Regions from separate parts of the Homo sapiens genome. Here all the other regions are linked to region 2. Evidence: fine-mapped expression QTL. A gene starts in region 2. Each other region holds a variant in brackets. All regions are shown on one strand. Distances are between the middles of the regions.

Evidence for each region. PIP is the estimated chance that this variant, and not a neighbour inherited with it, causes the effect.
Region 1: its variant is fine-mapped to the expression of DPP9 in whole blood (TOPMed, PIP 0.99).
Region 3: its variant is fine-mapped to the expression of DPP9 in whole blood (TOPMed, PIP 0.98).

What each region holds. Positions count from the first base shown.
Region 1 is chr19:4,554,201-4,562,373 of GRCh38, reverse strand. SEMA6B (semaphorin 6B) reads left to right here and starts at 2,690. Exons shown (of 17, transcript NM_032108.4): 1 at 2,690-2,844; 2 at 3,885-4,037; 3 at 4,225-4,348; 4 at 5,151-5,211; 5 at 5,361-5,423; 6 at 6,285-6,386; 7 at 6,810-6,900; 8 at 7,279-7,398; 9 at 7,898-7,986. The coding sequence starts at 3,917. RefSeq lists an enhancer at 5,343-5,637. The variant C/T (reference allele first, on the strand shown) is at 4,135.
Region 2 is chr19:4,720,316-4,728,488 of GRCh38, reverse strand. It overlaps DPP9 (dipeptidyl peptidase 9), which reads left to right and starts at 4,647. Exons shown (of 22, transcript NM_139159.5): 1 at 4,647-4,815; 2 at 5,938-5,990. It overlaps TRG-TCC1-1 (tRNA-Gly (anticodon TCC) 1-1), which reads right to left and starts at 4,419; the gene lies at 4,348-4,419. TRV-CAC3-1 (tRNA-Val (anticodon CAC) 3-1) reads left to right here and starts at 3,782; the gene lies at 3,782-3,854. It overlaps LOC105372250 (a long non-coding RNA gene), which reads right to left and starts at 5,609. Exons shown (of 3, transcript XR_936274.2): 1 at 5,503-5,609; 2 at 3,780-3,869; 3 at 2,902-3,354. RefSeq lists silencers at 3,727-3,926, 4,377-4,466, 4,697-4,846.
Region 3 is chr19:5,148,156-5,156,328 of GRCh38, reverse strand. KDM4B (lysine demethylase 4B) reads right to left here. Exons shown (of 23, transcript NM_015015.3): 22 at 5,879-5,971; 23 at 2,731-4,994. The coding sequence ends at 4,818. Among named protein-coding and RNA genes, the nearest start is that of PTPRS-AS1, 26 kb to the left of the region's middle. RefSeq lists a silencer at 2,046-2,105 and enhancers at 1,863-2,363, 4,294-5,065. The variant C/T (reference allele first, on the strand shown) is at 4,661.

The DNA of each region.
Region 1 (8,173 bases), 170 kb after region 2:
AAAAAAAAAGGGGAAGGAAACCCTGACACAGGTCACAGTGTGGATGCATCTTGAGGCAATCCCGCTCAGTGAGAGAGCCAGACACGCAAGGACAAACACTGTGTGACCCACTCCTAGGAAGTCCCTAGAGTCATCAGGTTCACTGAGACAGTAGGATGGGAGGTGCCAGGGGCTGGGGAGGGGGGTGAGGAGTGAGTGTTTCATGGGGACAGAATTTCAGTTTGGGAAGTCGAGAAAGTTCTGGAGATGGTGGTGGTGATGGGTGCACAATTATGTGGATGTTCTTAATGCTAGTGAACTGTGTGTACTTAAAAACAGTTAAGGGCCCACCGGGCACCGTGGCTCACAACTGTAATCCCAGCACTTTGGGAGGCCGAGGCGGGTGGATCACCTGAGGTCAGGAGTTCAAGACCAGCCTGGCCAATATGGTGAAACCTTATCCCTACTAAAAATACAAAAATTGGCCGGGGGCAGTGGCTCATGCCTGTAATCCCAGCACTTTGGGAGGCCGAGGTGGGTGGATCACCTGAGGTCAGGAGTTCAAAACCAGCCTGGCCAATATGGTGAAACCTTATCCCTACTAAAAATACAAAAATTAGCCGGGTATGGTGGCGGGCACTTGTGATCCCAGCTACTTGGGAGGCTGAGACAGGAGAATTGCTTGAACCCGGGAAGCTGAGGTTGCAGTGAGCCGAGATCACGCCATTGCACTCCAGCCTGGGCGACAGAGCAGGACTCTTGTCTCCAAAAAAAAAAAAAAAAAAAAAAAAGAGCACTCACCCCTTGGGGGTGCTGTGAAGATTAAATGAGTTAATTTAAGTACTTATGATAATGCCTGGCACCTAGCAAGTGCTTTATGTTTGCTAGGTGTTTTTTTGTCGTTGTTTTAATTTAAATTAATTTTATTTTTTTTGAGATAGGGTCTCACTCGGTCGCCCAGACTGGAGTACAGTGGACCAATTATAACTCATTGCATTCTTGAACTCCTGGGCTCAAGCAATCATCCTGCTTCAGCCTCACAAGTAGCTGGGACTACAGGCACGTGCCACCATGCCTGGTTAATTTTTTATGTTCTGTAGAGATTATGGGGGCGTGTCTCGCTATGTTGCCCAGGCTGGTCTCAAACTCCTGAGCTCAAGTGATCCTCTTGCCTTGGCCTCACAAAGTGCTTTACAAAATTAATACAAAAATTAACCGGGCGTGGCAGTGCACACCTGTAATCCCAGCTTTTCAGGAGGCTGAGACACGAGAATTGCTTGAACCTGGGAGGTGGAGGTTGCAGTGAGCCGAGATCATACCACTGCATCGCAGCCTGGGTGACAGAGTGAGACTCTGTCCACCTTCCCCTGCGTCCCCCACCCCCGGCAAAAAAAAAAGTCAGGCTTGGTGGTGCACACCTATGGTCCTAGCTACTCGGGAGGTTGAGGTAGGAGGATTGCTTGAGCCTGGAAGTTCAAGGCTGCAGTGAGTGGTGATTGTGCCACCGTACTCCAGCCTGGGCAACAGAGCCAGACCCTGTCTCTTAATGTTTAAAGAAATAGTTTCTAGAATTAAATATTATTCTGATAAAACACAAGATGAAAGACACAGCATGTCATACCCATTAGGATGGCGACTGTCAAAAAACCAAAAGGTGGCCGAGCGTGGTGGCTCACACCTGTAATCCTCGCACTTTGAGAGGGCAAGGCGAGTGGATCACCTGAGGTCAGGAGTTCGAGACCAGCCTGGCCAACATGGTGAAACCCCATCTGTACTAAAAATACAAAAATTAGCTGGGCGTGGTGGCACGTGGCTGTGGTCTCAGGTACTTGGGAAGTTGAGGCGGGAGGATCGCTTGAGCCTGGGAGGCAGAGATTGCTGTGAACCAAGATCATGCCACTGCACTCCAGCCTGGGTGACAGAGCGAGACTCCATCTCAAAAAAATAATAAGAATGAAGGAGGCTGGGCATGGTGGCTCACACCTGTAATCCCAGCAGTTTGGGAGGCCGAGGTGGGTGGATAGCATGAGGTCAGGAGTTCAAAACCAGTTTGACCAACATGGTGAAACGCCATGTGTACTAAAAATACAAAAAAATTTAGCCGGGCATGGTGGCATGCACCTGGAGTCCCAGCTACCTGGGAGGCTGAGAAGAATCGCTTGAACCCGGGAGGGGGAGGTTGCAGTGAGCTGAGATGGCACCACTGCACTCCAGCCTGGGCGACAGAGCAAGACTCTGTCTCAAATAATAATACTACTAATAATAGTTAAATGAAAATGGTTAAGATGACAGCTTTTATGTTATATATATTTTAGCCATTTTTTTTTAAAGGCACAGGGCAGACAGGGCTCTTAGTTAGGTTCTGGGGTAGGGGGCTAGAAAGGCCCGTGGCATGAGGGGAGGGTAGGCCGAAGTGGGGTCTGAGGTCAGGGGCCTTGAATCCCAGGGAGAGGCTGGGGCCTGGACTCAGGGGTCCCTGGGAGCCACAGGAGGCTGTAGAGCAGGGGAGGAGCCAGGGAAGGAAATTCTGAAGGAAACAGGGCCGTGCCCTGAACACACGTGGAATCCGGGTGTTCGCTGAGTCACAAATCCTGGAAGCTCAGGGTCGTGAAGAGGAAGTCCAGCCGCGCTATGCGAGGTCTTCCTGTTTTTGGAGGGGGCAGGCACCCCAGGGCCGATTGTCGCGAATCACCTTCACCTCTGGGGGCTCAGAATCCCTGAGCCAGAAGGCCAGGGCAGGGCTGGGGGATACCCCTGCTGCTCAGACAGGAAAATGGGCTCGGAGCTTGCCCAATACTTCCCAGAAGGACGAGGCTGCTGAACTTCTCATTCGGGGCTCCGGGACCTGGACTGTACCCCTTTCTGGTAGGGGGTGCTCTGAACTGGGACCTTCAGCATGGAGGGCGGGGGTTCAGAGGGTGAATTCCGCTGCTATGTCATTACCTGGATGGGAGAGTGTCTCCACTCCACACACCTAGAAGTTTCTGCAAAGTTACCTTGAATGGGAGTGGGAAGCAGTCCCCCGTGAGAGGTAGTGAGGTGCCTGTCATGGAGGTGTGCAAGCGGAGAATGAAAAGGCTGGATTTGGGAAGGAGGTCAGATCTACCAGGGTCACAGAGGCCCTTGGCATGGGGAATATTCTGTGATTCTGTGGTTATGTAGTACTGTCATTCCCAGCTTGTGGCTTTTTTTTTTTTTTTTTGGATGGAGTCTTGCTCTGTTGCCCAGGCTGGAGTGCAGTGGTGCGATCTTGGCTCACTGCAACCTCCACCTCCTGGGTTCAAGGGATTCTCCTGCCTCAGCTCTCCAGTAGCAGGGATTACGGGCACAGGCCACCATACCTGGCTAATTTTTGTATTTTTTTGTAGAGACAGGGTTTCGCTATGTTAGGCAGGCCGGTCTTGAACTCCTGACCTCAGATGATCCTCCCATCTCGGCCTCCCAAAATGTTGGGATTACAGGCGTGAGCCACCACACACAGCCAGCTTGTGGCTTATAAAATTCCAAGAGCCTTTGACTCTTTTTTTTTTTAGCCTTTGAGTTTAATATTTTTGTGTTTTAATTCTAAGTATTTTTATGCATGTATTTTGCGATTGCATTTTTAAATATATGTTTTAGGATATTTGTATCTATTATTATAATAATTATTATTAGTTTTAAATTACCGAATGCAGTTTTGTTTGAAGTCGTTTCCTGGGCTTTCACGCACACGTGGCCATAAAGTTGTTCTGATAATTAAATCAGTGCTGTGTATTATTATTATTATTGCCATTATTGTTTTTATTAATTATTATCCCCGTGAGGAATTTTTCTGGGATTTGAAGGAGCGTCTGCTGCTCTCGCCCGCCGTCTTGTGGCCACGAGCGGGACTGCAGGCCGCTCACCTCGCCGCCCCTTGCCCGCAGGCGTCACCTCCTCCTGTCGCCTGGCCCTCGCCATGCAGACCCCGCGAGCGTCCCCTCCCCGCCCGGCCCTGCTGCTTCTGCTGCTGCTACTGGGGGGCGCCCACGGCCTCTTTCCTGAGGAGCCGCCGCCGCTTAGCGTGGCCCCCAGGGACTGTGAGTCTGGGGGTGTCTTTGGGCGGGGGTGGAGTCCCGTGGGAGTATCTGGGTTCCCAGTTGGGTCTGCTGCCCCCACTGGGGGACTCAAGCAGTC[C/T]AGGAGCCACCCCTAGAAGGGGCATGACCTCAGGCCACCCTCTCTTCACCCCCAGCCCTTGCTCACACCCCTCTCCACCCCCTCACTCAGACCTGAACCACTATCCCGTGTTTGTGGGCAGCGGGCCCGGACGCCTGACCCCCGCAGAAGGTGCTGACGACCTCAACATCCAGCGAGTCCTGCGGGTCAACAGGACGCTGTTCATTGGGGACAGGTATTGCTGGGGACAGCAAGGAGGCCTGTGTGACGAGCAGAATGAGCGAGGGGGAGAGAGAGAGGAGGCGAGGGCAGGGAGGGGATGGAGCAGGTCGTGCAGGGCCTGTTGGGCCATTGGGAGGACTTAGGCTTTGACCCGGAGGAAGGTGGGAGCCACGGAGGGTTTTAGGTAGGGGAAGGACTGGACCTGACTCAGGTGCTCACACGCGCCCGCCCTCTGGTGGCTGCTTCTGGGAGGGGGCGAGAATGGAATCCAGGGGACCAGGGTGGAGGGGACTGGGCTGTCCAGGCTGGCTATGATTGAGGCTGGACCAGGTGGAAGCTGTCGTGGGGAGAAGCAAGTGTGAGATTACGGGGCTTCTAGGGATGGGCTTCCCAGGAAGGAGAGAGACCGGACAGATCAAATGCTTTGGAGAGGATGAGGAGGATGCGGAAGTGACCACTGGGCTTAACTACACGAGGTCACCAATGACGTTGAGCAGGGCGGCTTCCTCGGCAAGGGTGTGAGGGGAGAGAGCCTGGTGGGCGCCTGGGAGGCGCCGAGTGGGGCACCTGACCTAAGGCCATGGGACATGGTGTTGGGGGCAGTCCGTGGGGCGTGCCGGGCAGGAGGTGGAGTGCAGGATATGAAGGCCTGCTGGGGCCCTTGGGGGGGTGTGGTCGGCGCTAGAGTTGCTCGTGTCAGAGGCATTGGCATGGCCCTGCATGCCCCCGTGTGCACACCACATTGGCAGTGGGAAGGATGGAACGGGAGAGGGTGGCGGAGCCCCCAGTTCTCACTAACTATGCCCCTCCCCCAGGGACAACCTCTACCGCGTAGAGCTGGAGCCCCCCACGTCCACGGAGCTGCGGTACCAGAGGGTGAGGAAGGGGTGCAGGTGGGAGTGGAGGGGTAGGGCCAGGGGGACGCGGCACTGCGCCGGGGAGCTGGGTGGATTCGGCCCAGCACGGCGGGGTCACTCAGGGCTGCTGGGACCCGTTACCCCCTCACCAGCTCTCTCTGTCTGCAGAAGCTGACCTGGAGATCTAACCCCAGCGACATAAACGTGTGTCGGATGAAGGGCAAACAGGAGGTGAGTTGGCCCTGGCTCGGTCCCGGCCCCTGCGAATCAGCCCTGGCATTACCCATGCCCCGCCCCAATCAGACCAGGCCACGCCCACCCCGCCAGCCCTGGCCACGCCCCAACCCACCCCCAATCAGCCCTGGCCCCGCCCAACTGCCAGCCCTGGCCACACCCCCAAACAGCCATGGCCACGTCCACGTCCCCACCCAATTGGTCCTAGCCCGGCCTCCAGCCTAGCCACAATTATCCATAACCACGCCCCAAATAGTTCTGGCTATGCCCACACTTCTGCCCCTGTCAGTCCTACCACCACCCCCAGCCTCGTTCCAACAAGCCCAGGCCATGTTCACACGCCACCCAATAGCTCACTCCCCACCCAATCGATCAGGTCCCCATCCCGACCCCTCCCCTATCAGTCCTGCCGCCCCCCACGCCCCCGGCCCGCCCCAATAAGCCCAGGCCACGCCCACCCCACCAGCTCTGGCCACGCTCCCAACTTGGCCCCAATCAGCTATAACCGTGCCCACCACGCCCCAGTTAGTTCTGGTCACGACCATGCCCCACCCCAATCGGCCGTGACCACACCCAGGGCGGATCCTTCTCCTCCATCCCAGGTTAGGACTCTGCTATTGCCATGGTTATGCCCACAGTCTGACAATGCCCACCATCCTGGCCTTGCCTGCGTTGCTGATACAAAGTGTTTCCCTGTCTGGGTCGCACCGTGTCCCCAGCCAGTCCTAGGTTCAGCCCCTGCCTTGGCCATGCCCACAACAGACCGGCCCTCCACCCACACAACTCAGGTTCTGGCCACGCCCATCACCATGACCACGCCCACATCGCGCTCCCCGCTTCCTCCTGTCCCCACCTCAGGGCGAGTGTCGAAACTTCGTAAAGGTGCTGCTCCTTCGGGACGAGTCCACGCTCTTTGTGTGCGGTTCCAACGCCTTCAACCCGGTGTGCGCCAACTACAGCGTGAGTCTTCAGACTCCCTGCGCCCCAGGTCCAACCTCCAGGCCTCTGCTCGCCCGACCTCCGCTGGCCATGGCTTTTCCCCAGGCCGTGTCACCTCCTCCAGGAAGCCTTCCTGGATATACTCTCCCTGCCTCCTCCCCCTGAGCTCAAGAGGAGTCAGCGCTGTCCAAACGAGGCCTGTACAGGGGGCCGGGGAAGCCGTAGCTACTTAGGTAATGAGCCAGTTACAGGTCTAACTAGGCATTGACTCTTAAACCCATTTACAGATCAGTAAACTGAGGCCCTGAGAGGTTAAGTGAGTGGCCAAGGTCACACAGTAATCCGTGGTGGATCAGGATTCCCCCTGGAGTGGGGGGCTGAGGGAGCCAGGGGCTGCTAGGTGGGGTCAGGAGATCTGTCACTCAGGCCCCATGGTCCCTGCAGATAGACACCCTGCAGCCCGTCGGAGACAACATCAGCGGTATGGCCCGCTGCCCGTACGACCCCAAGCACGCCAATGTTGCCCTCTTCTCTGGTAAGTACCCCCCCAACCTCCATCTGATCAGCCCCAGCCACAGGCAAGACCTGGCATTTTCTACTCCAGCGTCTGGGTTGTTTAGAAGGCAGCTGGACGACCACTTGTCCCAGCTGTGACATGGGCAGACTCTCAGCCCAGGTTTGGGGCTCAGCTGGGATTGAGGCTCAGCGGGATTTGGGGCTTAGCCGGGGTCAGGGGCTCAGTTAAGGTCAGGGCTTGGATGGAGGTGGGGCTTGGATGGGATCAGGGCTCAGCCTGGAGACAGGGGCTCCCCTAGGCTCAGGACTCAGTCTCAGAAAATCGAGTTTCGACCCACCCAGCCCCTGGCCTCTGCGGTCTCATCTCTTGCCTGCCTTCCCCACCCACCCCATCCAGACGGGATGCTCTTCACAGCTACTGTTACCGACTTCCTAGCCATTGATGCTGTCATCTACCGCAGCCTCGGGGACAGGCCCACCCTGCGCACCGTGAAACATGACTCCAAGTGGTTCAAAGGTGAGACCAGGAAGGGCAGTGGGCCCAGACCTGGCAGGGCCCAGAACCTGACATTCATCAAATCTCCCCACCAGAATAAGAGTCCCAGAGGAGCTTGGTGGAGAGATTTCCACCACATCTTTGGAATCTGTTGGCCTTTTTGAAGACTAGAAAGCTAGAGGAACAAGTTTAGTTGGATCTAAAGTAGAACCCGCTGGAAGTGGGTGGCTTAGAAGCCCAAAATGGAACCACAGAAAAGATATAGCAGGACTCAGCTCTTCAACACATGAGGGAGGAAGATAACAAAAAATAGTTGATGTTGCCATTTGCAGCAAGAGACACAGCGATTTTAGGCTTCTGACCTCCCTTCCCCTGCAAAATACCAAACTTTGAGTCTGTTTCATATTGTCTGGGTAACCAGCCTATGTCCCCCCTTCACCATAAAAGCCAGTGAGTTCTTAGCCCCAGAAACCCCCTTTGTCATGTCAGGGGCTGAGTTCTGACCCCTCCTGTCCTGCAGAGCCTTACTTTGTCCATGCGGTGGAGTGGGGCAGCCATGTCTACTTCTTCTTCCGGGAGATTGCGATGGAGTTTAACTACCTGGAGAAGGTGAGGCCGGTGCAGTGGGGCATGAAGTTGAGAGGCTCTGATCATGCGAAGTGAGGGGGCAGAGGTGGATCCATGAATCCCTGCATGGGGTGAGAGGGTCCTGCCCTCCATTTCTGGTCCCCAGGGCCTCCTTTCCAGCCATGATCAGGCCCTGAGGCTGAAGACATCTACGGAGCAGCCGTGGAGC
Region 2 (8,173 bases):
GTGCCATTGCACTGCAGCCTCGGGGACAAGAGTGAGACTCCATCTAAAAAAAAATACACACACACAAAAAAGCCACTGGCTGGGCACGGTGGCTCACGCCTAGTAATCCCGGCACTTTGGGAGGCGGAGGCGGGTGGATCACGAGGTCAGGAGATCGAGACCATCCTGGCTAACACGGTGAAACCCCGTCTCTACTAAAAATACAAAAAATTAGCCAGGTGTGGTGGTGGGCACCTGTAGTCCCAGCTACTCAGGAGGCTGAGGCAGGAGAATGGCTTGAACCTGGGAGGCGGAGCTTGCAGTGAGCCGAGATGGCGCCACTGCACTCCAGCCTGGGCAACAGAGCGAGACTCCGTCTCTGTCTAAAAAAAAAAAAAAAAAAAAAAGCCAGAAAAGCACAATTATCATAGTGAGTTGTTGTTGTGTGTGTGTGTGTGTGTGTGTGTGTGTGTGTTTTGACAAGGTCTCACTCTACCACTCAGGCTGGAGTGCTTGTCATGATCATGGCTCACTGTAGTCTTGACCTCCTGGGCTCAAGCAATCCTCCCACCTCAGCCTTCCAAGTAGCTGGAACTACAGGTGCGCACAACCACACCCAGCTAGTTTTTATATTTTTTGTAGAGATGGGGTTTTGCTATGTTGCCCTTGCTAGAATACAGTCTTTTTTTTTTTTTTTTTTTTTTTGAGACAGAGGTCTTGCTTGTTGCCCAGGCTGGAGTGCAGTGGCGAGATCTCAGCTCACTGCAAGCTCTGCCTCCTGCATTCAAGCTGTTCTCCTGCCTGAGCCTTCCGAGTAGCTAGGATTACAGGCGTGTGCCACCACCCCCGGCTAATTTTGTATTTTTAGTAGAGATGGGTTTTAGCCATGTTGGCCAGGCTGGTCTCGAACTCCTGACCTCAGTGATCCGCCCGCCTTGGCCTCCCAAAATGCTGGGATTACAGGCGTGAGCCACCTCGCCCGGCCTAGAATACATTCTTAATGTTGTGAGTTTTAATATATCTACTTTTAATGTTTCAATATGGTTTCAACAGCATTCTGAGAGAAATAACCATTAAAATACATAAAATCAGGACAGGGATAGTGGCTCAGCCTTGTAATCCTAGCACTTTGGGAACCCAAGTCGGGAGGATTACTCGAGCGCAGGAGTTTGAGACCAGCTTGGGAGAGATAGCGAGACCCCATCTCTACTAAAAATTTTTTTAAAAATTAGCCAGGCATAGTGGCACCCACCTGTGGTCCCATCTACACGGGAGGCTTGCGGTGGGAGGATCCCTTGATCCCAGGAGGTCGAGGCTGCAGTGAGCTGTGATTGCACCACCGCACTCCAGCCTGGGTGACAGTGAGACCCTGTCTCAAAAACACCCAAAAACCCCTCAAAACACATAAAAACAGGCACAGAGAGGTACACATTTTAGACTCCAATAGAATTTGGCAAATCTCTACGAAAACTTGCCTCAATGGAAACTTTTGACAATTTGTTCATGATGGAGTTATTTACCAGTAATTATTTTATTTTTATTTGTTTAAATTTATTTATTTATTTATTTATTTATTTATTTATTTATTTAGAGACAGAGTCTCACTGTCGCCCAGTCTGGAGTGCAGTGGCGCGATCTCCACTCAGTGCAAGCTCCGCCTCCCGGGTTCATGCCATTCTCCTGCCTCAGCCTCCCGAGTAGCTGGGACTACAGGCGCCTGCTACCACGCCCGGCTAATTTTTTGTATTTTTAGTAGAGACGGAGTTTCACCGTGTTAGCCAGGATGGTCTCGATCTCCTGATCTCGTGATCCGCCCGTGTTGGCCTCCCAAAGTGCTGGGATTACAGGCGTGAGCCACCGCTCCCGGCCAACCAATAATTAAATTTTCTTTCTTTTTTTTTTTTTTTTGAGAGGGAGTCTCGCTCTGTCGCCCAGTCTGGAGTGCAGTGGCGCGATCTCGGCTCACTGCAAGCTCCGCCTCCCGGGTTCACGCCATTCTCCTGCCTCAGCCTCTCGAGTAGCTGGGACTAATTTTTTTGTATTTTTAGTACAGACGGGGTTTCACCATGTTAGCCAGGATGGTCTCGATCTCCTGACCTCGTGATCCGCCCTCCTCAGCCTCCCAAAGTGCTGGGATTACAGGCGTGAGCCACTGCGCCCGGCTAATTTTTAAAAGAATATTATGGTGGGGTGCAGTGGCTCACGCCTGTAATCCCAGCACTTTGGGAGGCGGAGGCGGGCGTATCACTTGAGCTCGGAAGTTCAAGACCAGCCTGGCCAACATGGTGGAATCCCATCTCTACGAAAAATACAAAAATTAGCCTGGCATAGTGGCTCATGTTTGTAATCCCAGCTACTAGGGAGGCTGAGGCACGAGAATAGCTTGAACCTGGGAGGTGGAGGTTGCAGTAAGTCAAGATTGTGCCACTGTACTCCAGCGACAACAGAGAGAGAAAAAAAGATGTATTGAAATATTATTTATCTTGATTATTGAGTTTTTTGGCACCACCTTAATTTTTGCACCTGGTGCCAGTGCCTTACAATGCTTTAGTCTCCTCACCCTAATCCCAGCCCCGCAGGAGTGAGGGTGTGCAGAATTTTACAGCAGTCTGATTCTAAATTCTTGCCATCATCTTCCCACCTCTTCTACTGTCTCTTTAAGAAAATAAAGAGGCCTGGCGTGGTGGCACATGCCTGTAATCCCAGCACTCTGGGAGACTCAGGCGGGCGGATCTCTTGAGGTCAGGAGTTCGAGACCAGCCATGACCAATATGGCGAAACTCCATCTTTAGTAAAAATACAAAATATAGTCAGGCGTGGTGGCGGGTGCCTGTAATCCCCGCTACTTGGGAGGCTGAGGCAGGAGAATCGCTTGAATCCGGGAGGCGGAGGTTGTAGTGAGCTGAGATTGCGCTACTACATTCTAGCCTGGGCAACAGGAGCAAAACTCCATCGGAAGGTAAACACATACACACACAGTTTTTCTTTTCAGAAAGCTCTTTTACAGTGTAGTTGGGGTCGGGCGCGGTGGCTCATGCCTGTAATCCCAGTACTTTGGGAGGCTGCAGGCGGGCGAATCACGTTGAGGTCAGGAGCTGGAAAGCAGCCTGGGCAACATAGTGCAGGCCCTCTAGTCTCTACAAAAAATACAAAAGTTAGCTGGGAGTGGTTGCACACGCCTGTAGTCCCAGCTATAAGGCACCGTCTCTACAAACGCATTTTTTAAAATTCAGCCAGGCGTGGTGGTCCACACCTGTGGTCCAAGCTACCCAGGAGGCTGAGGTGGGAGGATCGCTTGAGCCCAGGAGGTGGAGGCTGCAGGGAGGGATGATCGTACCACTGCACTCGAGCCTAGGCGACAGAACGAGACTCTCTCTAAAAAATACAAAAAACAAAACACACAAAAAAGTAGTTTGATCTAAAGCAAAATGGTGAATATCTGCAGAAACTAATGTGATATCAAGTATAGATTGATATCTATGAGATGAAAAGCTTCATTTGACCCCGGATGGGTTTGTGGGCCGTTTGACGTGCATTGTTTTAATGGAAGGTGGATTTATGATAAAGTGATAAACATGTGTGTGGGTGGGTGGGTGTGTTGGAAAGGGTGTTTATTGGATTTCTTTTTGTCTTCCTTATTTTCCTTCTTTCGGTCTCTACTGTATCAAATACAATAACAGATATTCAGGAAGAGCGGATATTGCTTTAGCTGACTGTAGCCAGTGTTTCTTTGGTGGGACAACGCAACTATCACTGCAACATTATCTCTATAGGAGAATTTAAAGAACCCTGACGCCTACCGGTTTCCGTAGTGTAGCGGTTATCACATTCGCCTCACACGCGAAAGGTCCCCGGTTCGATCCCGGGCGGAAACAGGTCAGCTGTTTTTCCTAACCGGAGAGTAATACTATTTGAAATTCACCGAAAGAACGATTCTAGTCCCATTCTTTCTCTTCCGCCTTCCTCCTGCCTTTTAGACATTTTTATGGGATTTAAAAAAATTTTCCGTGATTGATGGCTCACGCCTGTAATCCCAGCACTTTGAAAGGCCGAAGAGGGCGGATCACCTGAAGTCAGAGTTCGAGACCAGCCTGGCCAAAATGGTGAACCGCCCCCCCCCCCCCACCCCGCCCCACCCCGCCCCACCCCACCCCATCTCTACTAAAAATACAAAAATTAGATGGGCGTGGTGGCGTGCGCTTGTAATCACAGCTACTTGGGAGGCTGAGGCAGGAGAATCGTTTGAACCTGGGAGGTGGTGGTTGCAGTGAGCGGAGATCACGCCACTGCACTCCAGCCTGGGGGACCGAGCGAGACTCCGTCTCAAAACTAAAATGAAAATTTCAAACTCGCAAAAGTGGTACCGCATGCGTTGGCCGGGAATCGAACCCGGGTCAACTGCTTGGAAGGCAGCTATGCTAACCACTATACCACCAACGCCCTGATAGGTAGCATCCTCTCCGGATATCCTTAATAGTGGGGGATCATGGGTTTGACTGAGTGATACCAAGTCACAGGGGGGTGTCTCTCCCTAACCCACCGGAAGATGTCGTTCATGGGGCGTTACGCACCTTAGGCCGCCGCGCCGCGGGCTCCCCCCCAAGCGCCGCGGACGCCTTGGTACGTGCCTGGTGGTGTCCAATCCCAGGCCGCCGCCTGGGTCGCTCAACTTCCGGGTCAAAGGTGCCTGAGCCGGCGGGTCCCCTGTGTCCGCCGCGGCTGTCGTCCCCCGCTCCCGCCACTTCCGGGGTCGCAGTCCCGGGCATGGAGCCGCGACCGTGAGGCGCCGCTGGACCCGGGACGACCTGCCCAGTCCGGCCGCCGCCCCACGTCCCGGTGAGCAGCGCCCGCGCGCCTCGTCCCGCCCCGGCCGCGACCCTGAACCCGCCATTGACCGGCCCCGCCTCGGCCCTGACCCTGCCCTCGCCATCGCCTGGCCTCCCCGCACCCCGGAGCCTCCATGCACCCGTCTGTGGGTCCCTCCGGCCCCCTGCCTCGTTTCCTCTCCGCCCCAGGCCCTCCTCCACCTTCTTTCCCTCCCCGATTCCTGCGCTGGCCAGGCCACCTCCCAGTTTCTCCCCTTCCCTGATGGGCTTCCCCACCCATCCCGTTGCTGCCCAGGCCACCAGGCTCTGACCCCTTCCGGAGGTGGCCGCACCCAAGAACGTCCTCGTAGCTGCAGACCTTGACACCCTCTCCCCTTTCGTGCAGGCTCTGGAGGTCCCGATCTCCTCCCTCTCCCCATGCAAATGCTGTATATGCACAGAGGCCACCTCCCTCGACCTGCATCCTGTCCTCACTCCTTTACCACTTCCTCCAACCTTCGCCCCGAGGCTTGGTCTCCCCAATCCAGTCCTGATCCTCAACCCTACTTGATCCCTCTATTAAGGGTATCCAGAGACTCTTTTTCCTGCCGAGGCGTTGGTGGTGTAGTGGTTAGCATAGCTGTCTTCCAAGGGTCCAGCCCACAGGGTTCAGCCCCCTTCTCTCAGCCTCCCTTCTCAGGCCTGTCCAACCGCCTACCTTCTTCCCACACAGCCTTAGGCCAGCCCTGACACTTCCCTGTTCACGCTGCCTCTGAGCCATCAAAAGTGGTCTATTCCCTTGGCCCCCACCCCCTGGTCTTCCCCAGGGGCCCCAGGAGGAAGTCACTTGCCTCCCAGGCAAGAACCAACCTGCTTTCGAGGAGCTGGGACTAAAGCCCAGGGGGTGTGGACCGTAGGCACCAATCCCTGCATTCCTCTGCTGGGTCCCAGGGGAATCGGGGCCCGTGGGATGGCTTCTCTCCCAGATTCTGTCCAGGGCATGCAGACAGTGCTGCAGGGCTTCAAGGCAGAGCTAGAATCTAGCCAGGTAGAATCGGGCCTGACAGTCTGCAGCTCCTGAGTGGGGGAGGCTGAACGGCTGGCCGGTGCTTCCATTAACCTGCCACATTCATGACATGTTTATCCTATAAAGGTCTGTGTCCCACGCCTGCAGCTGGAATGGAGGCTCTCTGGACCCTTTAGAAGGTCAGTTGTGCTGGGGTTTGGCAGCCAGGAAGGCTGGGGTGTGGGCTGGTGGGATTCCTTTGCCTGCTCTAGAATATAGACATGGGCAGGAAATGGTTTTCTATGGCCCTGGATGGTTGTCCTCCGCAGGGCAGTGGCTGCAGTTTTTTGTGCGCCTGCTGGAGGCTTTTCTTTCCACCCCTGTCCCCCTCTAGCTGCCCCTGGAAGGAGCTTTTTGAAGGCTTTGAGGAGAGGAAGGGGAGAGTGCTGATTTCAGCAGGATTTGGTGGAGGGGTGCCTGGATCCACCTACACTGCCTGACCCGGTCAGTAAATGGTGTGGATTCTGGCCCTGAAAGGACTTTAGTTTGAGTCTCCCCCTTCCTGTGGTTTTGAGTATCTTGTTTAGTTGACAATGCTAGCTGTCATTTAGTTTGTGCTACATCAGACACTGTGTTAAAAGCTGTATGTGTGCAGTCTCATTCAATTCCCTTGGTGGCCCCAGGCGTAGATACTGTCATACCATGTTCTCGCTGGGGAAGTGGAAGCTCAGAGAGGTTCAGCGACTTCCCCAGAAGTGGCAGAGTCAGGATTTGAACCTTTCTCTCTGAGACCAGAGCCCACGCTTTTCACCACTGGACTGAGAGTATGGCCAGTGATTTTTCGTGGTGACTTTATGCTTAACCTCTTCCCTTAAAATCTCAGTCCTGTCCCCATGTGCTTCCCTCTCTTCTTTTGTTTTTGAGACAGAACCTCGCTCTGTCACCCCTGGAGTGCAATGGCACAATCTTAGCTCACTGCAACCTCCGCCTTCTGAGTTCAAGCAATTCTTCTGTCTCAGCCTCCTGAGTAGCTGGGATTACAGGCTTGCACCACCACAGCTGGCTAATTTTTGTATTTTTAGTAGAGCTGGAGTTTCACCATGTTGGCCAGGCTGGTCTCGAACTCCAGACCTCAGGTGATCTGCCCGCCTCAGCCCCCCAAAGTGCTGGGATTAAAGGCGTGAGCCACTGTACCCAGCTGGCCCTCTCTTCTTTAAGCCTTTGGGCAACTGCGCATCATGGGACCTGGCTTGTCTGAGAAGGTAGTTGGGCACCAACCAAACAAGGGGCCCCTTTGACTTTAGACGGCATCCAAGAAAGCACAGTAGCTCATTCATTCAACCTGAAATGTTTGTTGAGGACCAGGCATGGTCTGGGCTCAGGCAATCTGTTGGGACCAGGATAGATGTGGCCTGCCCTGTGGAACTGATATTCCCGTGAGGAGTGCCCCCTTACCCACAGCAGGGTTTCTCAGCTTTGCCACTGATATTTAGGGTTGGGTCATTCTTGGCAGAGGAGTGGGAGGGGGGCTGTTCTGTCCACTGTAAGGGGTTGAGCAGCATCGCTGGCCTCCACTGGCCACATGCCTCCCCTCACCGTCCCAGTCGTCATAACCAAAAATGTCCCCTGGGGGGGCCGGTTATCCCCAGGTGAGACCCCTGGGTTAGGGGATTCCATGGATCCCCAAGAGACTGCGTCCCATGATCCTCTGCCCTACTAAGGTCCCAGGAGGCTGCACACATTGAAATCCTCACCCTGAGTGGGGAGGGAGAAAGGAGGTGAATCCCAGGAGCTGGGGGTCCCCCTCGTTTAGAATGCTTGTTCCATGGGAAGTTTATTCCAGTATTAATATGAGCGTAGGCGTTGAACTCAAGTTTCTCCCCAAGTAATGGATGCAGGGGTCTCCGGCTTGGCATTGCTGACATTTGAGGTGGGATCCTTCTCTGAGGTGGGTTATCCTGGGCACTGTGGGGTGCTAAGCAGCATCTCTGGGCTCCACCCACTCCATGCCAGGGTCACCCCCGAGTTGTGACAGCCACACATGTCTCCAGACATTGTCCAGTGTCCCCTGAGGGGCCAAATCGCCCCCAGTTGAGAACCACTCTCCCTGGGGAAGGGGACAACTGGAATTATGGTCCAGGCCATTGTATCAGCGTCTGGGTGTGGTGATGGGGGTCGCCAGGTAGCATCTTCAGATGGGGTGCTCAGGAAAGACCTCTGAAGAGGTGGTATCAGGAGCCACAGGGCAAGAAAGAGCAAGTCATATCAAAAGCAGGAACTGGCATTTCAGGCCACGGGGTGCGTCGTGCAGAAGCTGTGTGCTAGGAGCGAGCAGGTGTGTTGAGGGACAAGAAGGAGGCAAGTGTGGCCGAAGGTCATGGTC
Region 3 (8,173 bases), 430 kb before region 2:
CCAGAACTCTCCATTGCAGAAGGGGAGGGAGCCCAATCCGTGAATGGTGGGGTTGGTGGGGGGCAGCTGCAGGGGTCGGAGGCTGAGTGTGTCAGGCTCTCCCCGACCCCAGCACTTGGGCAGCAGGTGGCCCAAGGGTAGAGGGCAGAGCACCCCCAGTGGGTCGGACAGATGGACAGATGAATCAAAGTCCCTGGTCAAAGCCTCCTTTTTCCACCCGCTCCTGCGGGTGGCAGCGGGGGCAGTTGGCTGCCCACTGTCCATCTAACTGGAAGCCTTTGAGAGCCAAGGTGGACCTGGGCACTGAGGGGCTGTCCCTATGGGAGAACATTTTGTTGCAGGCATAGAGAAAGGGTGGAGGCTGCCACCACCCACTTCTTCTAAGTCAGGGCTGAGCACATTCTTTCCCATAAAGGGCCAGATTCTAAATACATTGGGCTTTGCAGGCCAGGTGGGCTCTGCAGTGACTCTTCAGGTCTGCTGTTGTCGGGGCGCCAGCTGTCATATGTAAATGAATGGGCATGTCCATGTGCCAACAAAACTTTATTGACAAAAACAGGTGGCGGGCTGCATTTGGTCGGAGGGCTGTAGGTTGCCAGGCCTTGCCCTAGAAGGTGCCTGCTCTCAACACAATGTACCCACAGCCTGATTCTCTGATCTGCCGTCCCATCGGGGGGTCATATCTGTTTAAGAGTCCCTCTTTAATAAAAAGGGTGTCCACTGACACCCTTCTGGTGGTCTGTGACCGACCACCACTTACCCTCCATCTCTGACCCCGTTCTTGTCTTTCAGAGCATGCATTAAAGATGTATTTTTGTTTTTTTCTCCCTTTTCCTCAGCAGTGTCCCCAGAGCCTGGCACAGAGGTTGCATAAAAATATTGCAGCTGGAATAAATGAACCAAACTCAGGTGCTGATTACGGAGTCTCACACACTGCCCCGAGATACGAGACCTCGGCATCGGGGCACCCACCCCGGCCCGAGTGCAGACCTCATCGGCTCCGCACGGTGACACTTTTGGGGACCTATCCACTCATCTTTACTCTGCTCGGCAGACAGCAACAGCCTGTCCCAAATAGCCTTCCCGTTTTAGAGCGTTTTGGAGAACAATGGAAAGGACGCTGCAGGCACCACCTGCTCCTGCCACGGCCCCTCTGCCAGCTTGGGGAGGCCCAGGGACGCTGACCTCACAGGGCCTAGGGCGGGCGGGGGGGCACCCCAGAGGCTTTGGTTTCAGGCTGTGTCTGTCCCCGCACACAGGGAAGGCTTTCGAGATGGAGAAAAGAGGGACACAGTCTTTGTCGGGAAATCGCAGCAGGTGGAGCATCCAAGCCTCCTGTGGCCACGGGCTTCACCCCACCCTGGATCCCTCCTCCCCACCTGCAGCACACAGGGGAACTGAGTCCTGGTGGTGTTGAGAGGATGCTGGAGGCGAGAGGGCCCCAGAAAGGAGAGTCGGTGCTGGGGGCAGTAGGTGGATGAAGCTTTTTTGTCAAGGGCACCCTCTGTTCAGGACACAAGCCCTCGGCACAGCAGGCAGGTGGACACTCCTTCTGCAGAGGGAACGCCGGGGCCCAGGGAGGGATGGCCTGGCCGCGTCCCCCCGAGCCCTGGCTGCTGGGCCTGGGTTTCTCCGGGTGTCCCAGCCCCCGTCCCACCACAGACACCCAGGGCCCAGTCCTGGGTCCCACCCCACCTCCACCCACTCCCTGCAGGTGACTTCATCCTCTAGTTCCAACACCTGCCAGCTGACGGCCCCTGACCACCTGCCTTGGGGCGGCCTCCCCAGACCCAGCACCTTCACCTGGACGTCTGGTGTTCAAATCCAACCCCCTCCCAGCTCAACGCCTCCTTCCAGGGGCTCGGGTGATCTGCGAATCCTATTGGCTCTGCACTGAAAATGCATCCAGAATCCACCCACTTCTCACTACACCTGACCCCTGCCCTGGTCCCTAGCTTCTGCCCTTACCCCGTCTCCTCCCCACAGCAATCACCAGAGGGCGCCTGTGAGCACCTGAGTCAGGGCCCATCCCTCCCCTGCCCACACCCCTCCATGGCTCCCACCTCCCTCAGGGTCAAAGCCCAAGTCCTTCCCGAGACCCACAAGGGCCTGCACACCCTGCCTCCCCTCCTCCCCCTCTCCCCTGCCTCCCTCTGCTCCAGCCACAGGGGCCTCTTCATGTTCTTGCCGCACACCAGGCACAGGAGGGTCACCTCCCTGAGGGAGGCTCAGGTCTCCCGTGTCCCCTCTGCCGACTCCAGGCCTGGTGGGGCTGGGCACTGAGTGACCCAGGCCAGGACTGCTGGGTCCCAGTGGCCATCCAGGGCCGTGAGCCCCAGCGCCTAGCACGTCTGCCAGCCACCACCACCACAAGCAATGCTCTCGGGGCTCAGATGTAACCAGAACCGGATGGGGGACAGGGACAGGGCAGCTGCTGGCTGGGACGAGTGAGGCCAGGGCCAGGCCTCCAGAGAACTGAGGGGGAATCATGGGGTCCGCTGCCCCAGCCACCCAGCCTGGCCACAGCATGAGGGGCATGACAGCTGCCCCTGGGTGTGTGGGGGTGTGTTGGGGACCCTGGAGAGTGGGAGGGGAGGGACATCCAGCTCTGGAAGCAAACCTTCTCCCGGGAGAACGGGGCGCAGGCAGCCCCACCCCAGGGAGGCCCCAACATCAGTCCCCCTAGCACAGGCTCAGAAATGAAGACACTTGCCGGGGCATGGAACGGGGTTTCGCAGCGTTCATGAACCTTTAATTCATTATGAACCTAGAGGCAGGGACATTAGGCAAAAAATACAGCGTATCCTTCATCTCGGGTGGGGAAAAACCAGGGCACTGGGTTTTGCCGCGTCTTTGCACAGAGTAAGACACAGAGATACCTTCGTGGGGAGAGTGTGCAGCTCCGGCCTGCCCTTCTGTGGCCCATCTGCGCAGGCCGCCCAGGAGCCCACCAGGGGATGGGTGTGACCCCCAAGGGACAAGGGCAGCAGGGGCACCCGCCCGCTTCTTTACAATATAAATAGCATTTTCAAACAACATAAGAATACAGTGTCAGCGCCACGCCGGGCGAGGGCTGCGTGCAGAGGGACACCTCCACGTTTTGGCTGACACCCCCCAACCTCCCCGACCCCGGCCCTCTCCAGGGCAACCGCCCCCCTCCCCCACCAAGGAAATGAAAGGCTTGCTCCTGCGTAACACTCTCTCTGTTTTCCTTAGTCCTCTCTAGCCCGGGGACTGTTAGGACACTCTTTTATAATATAAACATTGCTTTTTTTTTTTTTTGGAGACAGGGTCTCGCTCTGTTGCCCAGGCTGGAGTGCAGTGGTGCAATCTGAGCTGACTGCAGCCTCAACCTCCTGGACTCAAGCAATCCTCCCACCACAGCCTCCCGAGTAGCTGGGACCACAGGTGCGCACCACCACACCTAGCTAATTTGTAAAAAATTTGTAGTGATGGGGTCTTGCTATATAGCCCAGGCTGGTCCCAAACTCCTGCCTCAGCCATTTTTTGTTTTTAATATAAGCAAATTATCTCCTCCATCCCTCCCTGGGGCAGGAGACAGCTAAGGTGGGGAAGGCTCCCCAGAGGGGTGCAGAGCTGGTGAGGGAGAGGCACCTGGAGAAGGCGCTTCCCAGCCTGGGCTGAAGGCCGTTTTTTCTCTATCAGCTCAACCCACTCCTAAGAAGCAGATTCCCCTCAGGTGACAGCAGCGTGGGTGGGTGGAGCGAGGACACCAGGCCTCGTCCCTGCCCGGAAGCAGGCGAAAGGGGCCCCGAAGGCCTGCCTCGGCCCTGTGTCCCCCGACCTGCTCAGGGTTGTACCCGAAGAGCTGGGAAGCTGTCCACACTCACTACCAACCAGAAGGGCCTGGGGGCCTCCCTCATCCTGAGCCATAGGAGGTGCAGGGGTGCTTTGTCTGCAAGGAAGCCTCTGGAACACCTGCGTTTCTCTCAGGTGAGAGAAACAAAGATAGACAAACCCCAGGAGAGAGTTTATTCTGCAAAGGTGGGCGCAGACGGAGGGAGGCCCCAGACCCCCGGGCTTCCCCTGGCCAGGTGCACAGGGGCGGCCACCAGAGAGCCTGGGCCTCCTCCCAGCAGGCACAGAGTGGGCACAGGCACTGGCACCAGACCATCAAAGCCCAGGAGCCGGGGTGAGGCGAGAGCGAGGCCGTGAGTGACCGGGCTGTGCCGAAACCGGGGCGTCCTGCCCCCCCCCCGAGGCTCACCCTCCAATTACCGGGTCTCTTTCCCTGCCTGGTCTGTAGCCAAATCATAATATTTTAAAACAACAACAAAAAAACAGCGAGATGCTCTGACCTCTCAGAGAATCCTGGTTCTGAGAAAAACAATGTGTTTGTTTTGTTTTGTTTTTCTTAAAGCCACAAATCTAGAAAACAACTTTGGGGATATTTTCCTTTGTTTTCCTTTTTTTCTTGCTTTTTTTTAAACAATATGTATTTATAGAAAGAGCCTCACAAAGGTGGTTTATGTACAGAAGTGACAATCTCAAAGGTTGCTCAGTAGGGCATTGCAGTAGCACCTTTTCGAGAAGAAGAGAGCTTACATGGTTTAAAATTCTGAGTAGTTGAGTGGGGTGCTCCCCTGGCCGGCCCCCGAGCCCGCCTGGCCCTGCTCCCTGAGTCTGGGGCCGCGTGCGG[C/T]GTCCCGCTGGCTCCTGTCGCCCTAGGGGGCACCCGCGGCTTGGAGGTGGCCTCTCGGGGGTCGGGGACACGAGGACAGGAATTCACAGCAAGCGAACGCCCGGGGCATGCCATGGCCTCCCCGCCGGGCTGAGGGTCGCCTGAGCGGCCAGCTGTCCTAGAAGGGGGCTCCGGGCCGGCCCTGCACCTGCAGGAGGCTCTCCACGAAGGCCACGTAGTCCTGGCTCCGCCCGGAGTCCTCCGTGGCAAGCGGGGTGCCCACACGCGGGCGCTTGGCGGCCTTGGCCTCCTCCCCCGAGAAGGCGGGCTCCTGCGGTGCCCCCGTGCTCAGTGACTGCGGGAGAGCGGAAGCACAGTGGTTAGCACGGTGGAGACACTCTGTGCGGCCCCAGCCACTGTCTATGGCCTCTGAGAGGAGCTGGCTGGACACAGAGCCCTGATTGCTGTGGGGGCTGCTCAGCAGGCTCCTGTTTTCGTGTTTGTAAACCCCTGATCCTGCCAGCAGAGGGGCCCTGCACTCGGCCCCAGCCTCTGGCCCCCTAGTGGGGTGGGCACCCTGGCTGGGGCTGGGACCGTCCATCTGGCAGCTCCCATCTGTTTTCCGAGGGACCCCTCTGCGGCTGAGCAGCTGTGGCCAGGACCAGGAACCTCCCCCACGGGCTCTGCCCCTCAACACCTCGCCTCTCGCCTCTCGATTAGAAAGAGAATAAAGGAAGCCCATGAGGGCTGGGGGAGCGAAAGCTGGAGCTGCCTCCGCTGCCTCCAGGACTCAGGCTCCCGTTTAATAAGGAAAAACCTCAGGAAAAGCTTTTTTAAGCCGACAACTGGGGTGCCCGTACTTCGCCTGTACCCCAAAACCTGTGATGGTTCAGAGGCCGCCCTGTGCAGGGTGGGGCAGCGCGGGTCCTGCAGGGCACAGGGGGCTGGGAGGGTCTGTTCTGCATTCGTGATAAGGGGAGGGGCGGGGCTTCTCCAACCCTCCCTCCCCACATTAACGGCATCGCCCAGGAGCTGCGGCACCAGGAGTCAAGGCAAAGGAAGGGTCTCCTGCCAGGAGCCCATGGACCAGCTGTGCTGGGGCGGCCGGGACCCCCTTCCAGCAGAGGTGCAAGAGGAGGGGGTGGTCCACGCCATTGGAAGACGCAGTCTGTGCCCTGCCTCGTCCCAGACGGGCTCCCTGAGTCACCCGGAGCCACCAGGCCAGCCTCGCGCACTCACCAGCCGAGAGCGGACCCTCTTGGGCAGCTCCTCCTCCAGGGTGAAGATGTCCCCACGCTTCACCGTCAGCTGGGACCCGTCCTCAAACTCCACCTGCAGGGGGATGTGGCTCTCAGGGGCCTGGCACTGCCAGGATGGCAGGTGCTCCAGGCAGGCCACGGCCTCAAGAGCTGGGAGGCCAGCCCCCTTGGGTGCATGGGGCCCGCTAGAGGCCACATGCAGCCAAGCTGAAGCTCATGTCCACCTCTGACACCGCCTGCAGCAAACAAGGATCAGGCTGAGGGTCCCGTACCACGGGGCAAGGATGACGGAGGACGGGACAGCCTGGGGCAGAGGCAGGGCCCCGCAGCTTCCACATGGAGACAGAACACTCACCCCTCACCTCCTCCCAGCTCAAAAGACATCTGTCTCCATGAAGACACAGCCCCAGGACAAGGTGACAGAGTCACTGGTGGACACAGAGCCAGGCAGGAGGCGCAGTGCCCTAACAGGGCCTGGGAGGCAGGGGAGGCCGGACAGGCGGACTCAGGGGCCTGAGCTCAGGAGCCCCCAACCAGAAGGTGAAGGACAGGGTCCCTGGCTTATGTGTGGCCCTCTGAAAACAGCTCAGTCACCTCTTCCCTTCAACTCAGAGAAAAATCACCCCCTTCCAGCCTCCCCAGCTGGTGCCTTGTTCCAGGTGGCAGATGCCTGACTGGTGAGGGGCACTGGGAGCACCCCGCTTCCTCCTCGTTAAGCTTGGTGCCAGCTCAGGCTCGCGGAGACTCTCTCAGGGGCCCTCTGGCAACACAACACTGTCCCATGAAGGGCGTGCCAGGGAGGGGCGTGTCTCCAGGCCCACCTCATAACTGCGATGGGCGCCGTGTTCCCAAGCCAGGAAAGGTGCTGGGGTCACTCCCTGGGCCTGACTGCCGTTCTGCTCCAGGGGGAGAAGGTTCCCATATCAGAGGGCTCGCTTTTCACATTTAAAAACTCAAAACAAGCCAGGCATGGTGGCATGTGCCTGTGGTCCCAGCTACCCAGGAGGCTGAGGTGGAGGCTGTAGTGAGCTCTAATTATGTCACTGCACTCCAGGCTGGGTGACAGATCAAGACCCCGTCTCAAAATGAACAAAATGCACACATAAGACTGTCACAGAAGCGTACAAAAGTCACACACTAAGACCATGACGGAAGTGTATAAAAGTCACACAGTAAGACCATCGCGGAAGTGTGTCTGGGGCTAGACGCCCCACGTAGTGTGCAGCGGGGGGGCCCGGGATCGCAGCACCTCCCTCTCCAAGGGAGCACAGACCCTGCCTTGGGGCAGCCAAGCCTGCCGGTCCCTGTGACTCCTCCAGGGATGGGTGGGGATGGAGACAGACGTAGGCCCTGGAGCAAGTGTCTGCTGTGGGTTCCACATGCCTCTTGGCCGGCGCAGGCGGCGGGAGAAGCAGGGCTGGGAGTGCCCAGTGTGGACTCTCAGATGGCCGGTTGCCTCTGGGCCGTGTCCTGGGACGACAGCACACATCTCTCGGGGATGTGTGGAGGAGCCTGCTGGGAACCAAGGACATGGGTGCCACCCTCTGCCCCGTCCTACCCATCTCATTTGTAGAGGAAAGCCACCGGGAGAAGGCCCCTTCCCAGCGTCTGTCCGGTGAGGAGAGTCTGGGTGAAGGAGTCCTAGTGTCGGAGCCCCAGCACCCCGGAAAGCGATTTCCACCCCCGGCGTGGCCAGGCTCCGCTTTGCCACGGGCAGCAGCGGGTTTTGGAGGCTCCGCTTTGCCAAGGGCAGCAGCGGGTTTTGGAGGCTCCGCTTTGCCACGGGCAGCAGCGGGTTTTAGAGCTCCCACTGCAGGAGTCCCAGGGCCCACCTGCTGCCTTTCCCCAGCTCCCCGGCCCCGACTCGGCCTCTCGGCTTCTGGCAGGCGTGGCACACAGTGATTCAGTCAGGCACAGAAGCAGCCTTGCCAGGAGGGGAAGGCGCGTTCTAGAAACTCAGTGGAAACTGGCTCAGGTTTCTGGGTCAGGAAGACTGCAGAGATCCGCCCCAGATTCTCAGGAGCACAGAACCGCCTAGGAGGATGGCGCTCACACTGCCGGGTCCAAGTGGGCTCCAGGGAAACTTCTGTGCCTGGGTCATTTGGGAACTGGGGGCTGACTGGAGACTCAGGCTGATTTCCTCCCAGTGGCCTCCCTGGAACGTGCTTTCACTATGAGTCTCCACAGGGCGAGTTCTGAAGGCGGCGTTTGCTTTTTAACATTTTGAGAAAACTGGATATACTTGCAGCTACAGGAAATCAGAGGCGTGCGCCTC